3 separate regions of the Homo sapiens genome follow, and all the other regions are linked to region 1. Evidence: fine-mapped expression QTL. A gene starts in region 1. Each other region holds a variant in brackets. All regions are shown on one strand. Distances are from middle to middle.

What was found. PIP is the estimated chance that this variant, and not a neighbour inherited with it, causes the effect. A credible set is the group of variants that fine-mapping cannot tell apart.
Region 2: its variant is the best candidate, but not a certain one, in a credible set for the expression of TNFRSF1B in whole blood (TOPMed, PIP 0.84).
Region 3: its variant is the best candidate, but not a certain one, in a credible set for the expression of TNFRSF1B in cerebellum (GTEx, PIP 0.72).

What each region holds. Positions count from the first base shown.
Region 1 is chr1:12,165,412-12,168,252 of GRCh38, forward strand. TNFRSF1B (TNF receptor superfamily member 1B) reads left to right here and starts at 1,580. Exons shown (of 10, transcript NM_001066.3): 1 at 1,580-1,758. The coding sequence starts at 1,681. It overlaps MIR7846 (microRNA 7846), which reads left to right and starts at 1,532; the gene lies at 1,532-1,627. RefSeq lists silencers at 1,416-1,725, 1,736-1,965 and an enhancer at 2,006-2,647.
Region 2 is chr1:12,195,437-12,197,936 of GRCh38, forward strand. All of the region lies in intron 8 of TNFRSF1B (TNF receptor superfamily member 1B), which reads left to right. Among named protein-coding and RNA genes, the nearest start is that of MIR4632, 5.0 kb to the left of the region's middle. The variant C/G (reference allele first, on the strand shown) is at 1,448.
Region 3 is chr1:12,131,791-12,134,631 of GRCh38, forward strand. All of the region lies in intron 12 of TNFRSF8 (TNF receptor superfamily member 8), which reads left to right. Among named protein-coding and RNA genes, the nearest start is that of MIR7846, 34 kb to the right of the region's middle. The variant C/G (reference allele first, on the strand shown) is at 1,680.

The sequences.
Region 1 (2,841 bases):
GCTGCTCCTAGGCATTCTCATAAGGGCCAGAAGAGCTCTGCATGTCTGTCCAGCGGCTCTGCAGAGTTAAGGCTGTGGGTCATACCAGCCACACCCTCAGCGTGGTCCATGTCACAGAAACATGTGGAAACCAGGTGATTTCCCAGCCTCCTGGTCAGGAGGTGGGGTTTTCCATCCCCAGGGAGTCACTTCCCAGTTTCTCACTCAGCACTCAGCACCTAGAAGCACCATCCTTGCAGGCTCCACTGTGGGGCTGGTGGCCGGGAGCAAGGGTCTCTGTACCTCTTCAGGCAGCCTGCAGTGAGGAAACAGGGAACAGAATAGCCTCCTGCCACCCAGCCCACCCCAACCCTTAGAAATGCCCTATGTGCTGGGGGCTAGGACCCCCGTAATCCAGGGCTGGAGGAATGTGCTCTGGCCCCGCAGGGCTGGCCCTGTATTAGGGCTGGCACTCAAAGTGGGGATGGGGGGACAGATTGCAGCTGGAATGGGTGCTCGGTCATGATGTAAATCCTGGGGAAGCCAGCTCTCCTGGGCCTGGTCTCAGCAGCCCCTCAGGGCCCTGCAGCTTCCCTGGTGACATTCTCTCCCAGCCTCTGTTCATCTGCCCCCTGCCTGGGCAGGAGACTTGAGCAGGGAAGTGCAGAGTCTTCTCCCTGTGAGAAGGCTGGATGCGTGTTTAAGGATAAATGAACACGCGAAGAGTAGTAACAACAGCCAAGATTTATAAATGCCTATTGTTATATATGTAGATACTTACTTAAGTATATATAAAGTACAGACTGCATTATGTATATTACATATCTTTAAATTTTTAGAATAGTCCTATGAGGTCAGTTCAGAGATCCAGACCCAGGTGGTCTGGCTCTAGAGTCTAAACAGGCCGAGTGCAGTGGCTCACACCTATAATCCCAGCACCTTGGGAGGCCAGAGGCGGGAAGATCACTTGAGGGTGGGAAGAACACGTGAGCTCAGGAGTTCGAGACCAGCCTGGACAACATGGCGAAACCCCATCTCTATAAAGAAATCAGCCTAGCATGGTGGCCCGAGCCTGTAGTCCCAGCTACTCGGGAGGCTGAGGTGGGAGGATCGCTTGAGCGCAGGAGTTGGAGGCTGCAGTGAGCTATGGGTGAAAGAGTGAGACCTTGTCTCAAAAAAAATTAAAAAATAAGAATTAAATATATTTAAAATAGAGTCTAAATAAGTGAATGATCTAGAATTCTCTTGGTTCCCCTAAAGCAGCTGTCAGCTTTGGGGGATGTTTTTCCAAATTAGTGCCTCACCCTCACGGGACAGGGAAGCCTGTGGGAGCTGGGAGGGCAGGTGGAGGCCGGGCAGGTGGAGGCCGGGCAGGTGGAGATGGTGATTCGAAGAGGAGGGGACGATAGGAGGAGGTTGAGGGGTCACCCGAGTGCTGGGAGTGACGCTGGAGGTATCGGCCCAGCGATGCTGGAGTGGTCGGGTCGGAGGCCCAGCAGCGTCTGGGGAGGGGCGTGGGGGAGGCGTGTCCAAGGCCGGCTGGCCCCGCCCCGCCCCGCCGCCTGGCCTCTGGCCCGCTGGGGCGCGGGCTTTCGCTTTCAGTCGAGGGCTAGCGAGCGCAGCGGAGCCTGGAGAGAAGGCGCTGGGCTGCGAGGGCGCGAGGGCGCGAGGGCAGGGGGCAACCGGACCCCGCCCGCACCCATGGCGCCCGTCGCCGTCTGGGCCGCGCTGGCCGTCGGACTGGAGCTCTGGGCTGCGGCGCACGCCTTGCCCGCCCAGGTGGGTGACTCGCGCGGCCCACGGGGGACAGCCGCCCCGCATGTCCACCCGGCTGGTGCGCAGCCTTCGGGTGCCCGGGCCGCGCTCTCCCGGGGCGCTGTCACGGGCTGGGAGGCTGGGAGTCCCAGTCGCCGCCCCCCATCCGCATCAGACACGCGCGCCTCTGGGGACCCGCTGGGGACTCCGGGCCCGGCACACGTGCGCTCGGGGCACAACTCTGGCCCCCGAAGCCCCTCTTACCCGCGTCGTGACAGGGGCGCACCCTGGTTCCTCCGCGAGCGCAGGCCGGGGCATTTGGGGCTGAGCAGCGGGTCCTGGGCAGACCCCCGCTAGACCCGGGACCCCTCTTCCCTCACCCCGGCGACTGCCGCGACAGCCCTTCCCTCCCACGCGGTGGAGAAGGGGCTGTGCCGGGGCGCTGCCCCACTGCCCACGCCGGGCACCCTCTTCAAAAGACTTCCTTTTCCTCTGGGCGACGGTTTTCCGATTTCTTAGAAATACCAGGGTCCTGTGTCTGAAGAGCAGGACCAGGTGTGTGTCAGGTCCACTGAGGGCACAGCTGGAGGGCGAGCTGCCTGTCTGCTTCCTCCGATGCGTCCGGGGGCTACTGCAGAGTCTGTTTTCTGCGGCCTCTGGGGACAGGGCAAGCGAGGGAGGTCTGGGCTGGTAATCGAGCAAGGCAAATGAAGTCTCCGGGGGCCGCAGGAAAATGGAGACAGCAGAAACCCTAGGGCTCCTATTCAATATGAACGTCACTCCCACAGTAGCAACGGGCGTACAAGGGACTGTGCACCCTTTGCCTGTTTTTGACTGTCTCCTGGTCTGGTAACATAGGATAACCCCATTTTTGTTTTACTGTCTCCATGGTTTGGTAAGATAAGATAAACCATTTTTTAGAGAAGGAAAACTGAGGCTCAGAGAACTTGTATTTCATGGAAGGGTCTGGGGGGAACTCTTCCTCCAAAGGGGGCCTCTCCTGCCTTCGGCCCCTGTGCCCTGAGGCTGCGGGGAAGGTGGGCGTTCATCCTTCCTCAGAGCCGCCCCTGATGGACACATGGCCCATCTGCCCCCATCTGACATCTT
Region 2 (2,500 bases), 30 kb after region 1:
TGACTTTTGTTCTCTTGTTTGTGGCCTCATGTCATAAGATGGTAATCATCACTTCATATGTCACCTCTAAGTTTGAGGTGGGAAGAAGGGGCAGGTGGCCAGGTCAGCCATGGTGCCCTTATCAGTAAATCGGATGCCTTCCCAGAAGCCCTGGGTAGACTTCTTTCATCTCACTGACCAGACAGTGTCACATGACCACCCCTAGCTGCGAGGGAAGCTGGGAAAGAGGGTGTTTTGCTTTTCCAGCCTCTATGGAGGAGGAGGACAAGGGAGGGGGGTTGGAAGTGGGTATGGGGTGAGCCAGAACATACGTCTGTCACAGCCTTGCACCTGGTAGGCAGGGCAGGTTTTTTACCCAATTTGACAGATGAGAAAACAGAGTCTGATGAGTTTTCTCGACCTCAGGGGCAGGTAGAGAAAGAACTTCTCAACCTCATGGATATTTGAGACAACATCTTACTTAAGGGAGGCCAAGGTGGGAGGATTGCTTGAGTCTAGGAGTTCAAGACCAGCCTGGGAAACACAGTGAGACCCTATCCCTAAACAAAATTAAATAAAATAAATATTTTTAAAAAGGATCTTGGCTGGGCACGGTGGCTCACTCCTGTAATCCCAGCACTTTGGAAGGCCGAGGTAGATGGATCACTTGAGGTCAGGAGTTCAAGACTAGTCTGGCCATCATGGTAAAACCCCATCTCTACTAAAAACAGAAAAATTAGCCAGGCGTGGTGGCACGTGCCTGTAGTCTCAGCTACTCGGGAGGCTGAGGCAGGAGAGTCGCTTGAACCCGGGCAGTGGAGGTTGCAATGAGCTGAGATCACACCACTGCTCTCCAGCCTGGGCAATAGAGCAAGACTCCATCTCAAAAGAAAAAATAAAATAAAATAAATAAATAAAATATCTTACTTAGTTGTGGGGGCTGTCCCGTGCTATTCAGCAGCATCTTTGGTCTTTATTTACTTACATGCCAGCCTCATTCCCACTCCAGTGGTGACAATCAAAAATTCTCCAGACATCACCAAGTGTCCCCTGGAGGGCAAAATCACCCCTAGTGGAGAACCACTGCTCGAGGGAACAGCTCAGCCCTGGGCAGCCCAATACCCGAAGCTTACACCAGGTGTTTGGAATCAGATAGATTGATTTCATCCCCTGATTTTGGTGACAAGAAAAGAGATGCAGGGAGGAAAACTGAGTTGCTCAAGGTCGCACCGCAGTGTGTCTCTGGACTCCCATCTCAGTGCTCTTTGCCCTGCCCTACAGTATTTCAGTGGGGAGGAAATTTTCTCATTCCCCGGCGAGCGAGTTTCACTGCTCCCTTTCTCCAGCTTCAATTCAGTGACACTGACGGTTGCCGCCTGGTGGCGTGCGTAGAGCAGGTGTCTCCCCCAAGCTCTTCCGCAGCAGCCCAGCTGTCACCTTCCCTTTCCCCACCAAGCGTTTCCCAATC[C/G]TCTGTGCACTGAAGATGTCCTGGGTGTGGCCTAGCAGCCTCTGCTTCCCTTTTCCATTTTTTTTTTCTTTCTTTCTTTTTTTTTTTTTGAGACAGCTATGTCGCCCAGGCTGCAGTGCAGTGGCGCCCTCTTGGCTCACTGCAGCCTCCGCCTCCCGGGTTCGAGTGGTCATCCCACCTCAGCCTCCCAAGTAGATGGGACTATGGGCATGCGCCACCATGCCTGGCTAATTTTTATATTTTTAGTAGAGACGGGGTTTTGCCATGTTGGCCAGGCTGGTCTCAAACCCCTGACCTCAAGTGATCTGCCCACCTCGGTCTCCCAAAGTACTGGGATGAGAGGCATAAGCCACCACGCCTGGCCCCTTTCCTTTCACTGTTGCTCTCAGTGTTCACTGAATGTGAGTGACTCAAGTATCTGTTGAGTGCCCCAGTGGTGTGTCTAGTGCAGAAAAAAACCCCCAAACCCTGATTTGTGGTGTTTGCTAATTTCTGTGGTATAAACACTCACACTGTAGCCAGTTTCCAACTCCCAAGACCTTCCTGAATATGGAGTTGGGAGGAAATCTGCACAGGCCTGAGCTTATCCCAGCACAGCCCTGGCTGAGCCCTGCCAGGCTCTTTGTGACTGAGTCCCCACGCATCCCTGTGGGGCAGGGAGCATCATCACCCCCATTTTACAGAGGAGGAAACTGAGACTCTGGGAGGTTCCATTTTTCCTGTAGGATTAGATCATTAGGTGAGTGGCATAGCCCAGGTTTGAATCAGGTTTATGCCTGTGTCCCACGCTACTCCTCAACCAGCAGCTACTCCTGATAAGAGGCCAGTGGAGAGTCCTCTTGAGCTGGGCTGCTGGGCTTAGAGTGTGGACTCAGCACCCACCTGCTCCTCCTGCCACAGAAAGAACGTCCAGGGCATGGGAGACAGTGGCGTTCCTTTGTTTAGAAAACACCAACATGTGGCCGGGCGCCATGGCTCACGCCTGTAATCCCAGCACTTTGGGAGGCCGAGGGGGGCGGATCACGAGGTCAGGAGATCGAGACCATCCTGGCT
Region 3 (2,841 bases), 34 kb before region 1:
GCTAGTCCTCATTTTTTTTTTGAGGCAGAGTCTCGCTCTGTTGCCCAGGTTGGAGTGCAATGGCGCAATCTCAGCTCACTGCAACCTCTGCTTCCCGGGTTCCAGCAATTCTCCTGCCTCAGCCTCCCGAGTAGCTGGGATTATAGGCGCGCGCCACCATGCCCAGCTAATTTTTGTATTTTTAGTAGAGATGGGGTTTCACCAGGTTGGCCAGGCTGGTCTGGAACTCCTGGCATCGTGATTTGCCCACCTCAGCCTCCCAAAATACTGGGATTACAGGCATGAGCCACCACGCCCAGTCTCATTTTTAAAAATAGTTTTAGATGTACAGAAAATTGGAGAAGACAGCACAGGAGTTCCCACATGCCCCACACCCAGTTTCCTCTGTGATTAGCATCTTAAGCCAGCATCGTTCATTTGTCAAAATATGTGAACCATTATTGACACAGGATTACAAACGAAAGCCCACACTGTGTTCAGGGTTCCCTTGCATTGCCTAAGGTTCCAGGATCCCATCCAGGAGCCACGTCACATTCAGTCATCATGTCGCCTTAGGCTACTCTGGCCTGTGGCCGTTTCTCAGATCTTGTTTCTCAAGACCAGTTTCCCTGATGGCCTTGGCAGTTTTTGAGTATTGATCAGGTGTTTTGCGGGACGCCTGTCTCCTGGGATCTGTCTGATGTCTTCCCCATGATTAGACTGGAGTTATGCATTGGGGGAAGAAGACCACAGAGGTGAAACGTCATGCTCATCACATCAAATCTTGGCTGGGCGCAGTAGCTCATGCCTGTAATCCCAGCACTTTGGGAGGCCAAGCCTGGCAGATCACCTGAGGTCAGGAGTTTGAGACCAGCCTGGCCAACATGGTGAAACCCTGTCTCTACCGAAAATACAAAAATTAGCCGGGTGTCATGACACGCACCTGTAGTCCCAGCTACTTGGGAGGCTGAGGCAGGAGGATCGCTTAAACCCCAGAGGCAGAGGTTGCATTGAGCTGAGAACGTGCCACTACACTCCAGCCTCGGTGACAGAGCGAGACTCCATCTCAAAAAAAAAAAAAAAAAAAAAAAAATCAACCTGATTTACCACTGGGCACCTTCACTTTTGATATCTCTTTTAATCTTCTCAACAAGCCCCAAAGTTGATGTGATTCATCCCATTTTCCAGCTGGGAGGACAGAGGCTCGGAGAAGGGAAGTAATATTGTGCTGAGTTTCACCGCCAAGGAGGCCCCTGCTCCAGGGTGGCTAAGCGGCCTCATTGTTTTTGACATTTGGCTGGTTTTCAATTTGAGGGTTATTATAAACCCGCTGCTGTGCTCGGCCTTTTTGTTTTCTTTCGGGTTATTTCCTGAGGGTGTGTTCCCTCAAGAGGGATGACTGGGTAAAGAGTGTGAGGTTTTTGTTGCCAGATGGCTCTTTAGAAAAATGGAACCAGCCTGCAGGGTATGGGCAGCTCTGCGATCCCGTTCACCCACTTCCCCTTCAAGGCCGAGTTGTGTCATTTTTATTTATTTTGTTTTGTTACTTTGTCACACTTTTTTTTTTTTATTCTGTTGGCCACCCCCAGTGACTTGGTACCAAAGAACAGTTGGCTGCTTGTAAAACTCAAAATCACTCTGGAGGGACCATGATTTAGTTTCACTGACGTCATTGAAAAGAATGTGCCTCGGCCGGGTGC[C/G]GTGGCTCACGCCTGTAATCCCAGCACTTTGGGAGGCCGAGGCGGGTGGATCACGAGGTCAAGAGATCGAGACCAGCCTGGCCAACATGGTGAAACCCCGTCTCTACTAAAAATACAAAAATTAGCTGAGCATGGTGGTGCGTGCCTGTAATCCCAGCTACTCGGGAGGCTGAGGCAGGAGAATCGCTTGAACCCAGGAGGCGGAGGTTGCAGTGAGCCGAGATCGCGCTGCTGCACTTCACCCTGGCGACAGAGTTAGACTCCATCTCAAAAAAAAAAAAAAAAAAAAAAAATTACCCCTGGCCGGGCAAGGTGGCTCATGCCTGTAATCCCAGCACTTCGAGAGGCCGAGGCGGGCAGATCACCTGAGGTCAGGAGTTGGAGACCAACCTGGCCAACATGGTGAAACCTTGTTTCTACTAAAAATACAAAAATTAGCCGGGCGTGGTGGCACATGTCGGTAATCCCAGCTACTTGTGAGAATTGCTTAAACCTGTGAGGCAGAGGTTGCAGTGAGCCAAGATCGTGCCACTGCACTCCAGCCTGGGTGACAGAGTGAGACTCTGTCTCAAAAAAAGAAAAAATTACCCCTAAGAGTGTTTCCCAAACTCACCTAGTGTCCACACAGCGTGTTCAAATGGTCAGTCTTGCGTATACTTTATCCTACTTGTTGACTGAGCACTGGTGAGCATATCTGTGAGGACTCAGGGCTGGTGGCTCTCCAGAGCTGCTGAAGTCAGAGATGTGTGCAGGAGGCGGCGTGGCTGACATACGGGCATCTTGGTGGCAGATTTGTCTAGCCAGGGATGTGTGCCTGACAACAGCATATTCCAGATCTCCGTAGGTAGCGTTCTCAGGAGTGGTTAAAAGCTGGGCATCCCTGGAGGATGGTCTGCTCTGGGAACTGACTTGCTCCAGGATGAGTTAGATGCCCGGATGCCCTCTCACCTTTCTCAGATGGCCAGTGAGCCAAGGTTAAATGTTAAATGTCAATATGTGCTTGGGCGTGACCTGGCCCCTGTTTAATATGGGAGAACAATGGGAGTGGAGGGTAGAGGTTTGAGATGAGAAGATAGAGGTTGTGCGTTGAGAATCATTGTATCAGCACCTCCTGAGCCTACAAAAGGATGGGATTGAAGGAAATGAGATGGCCCGAGAGCAG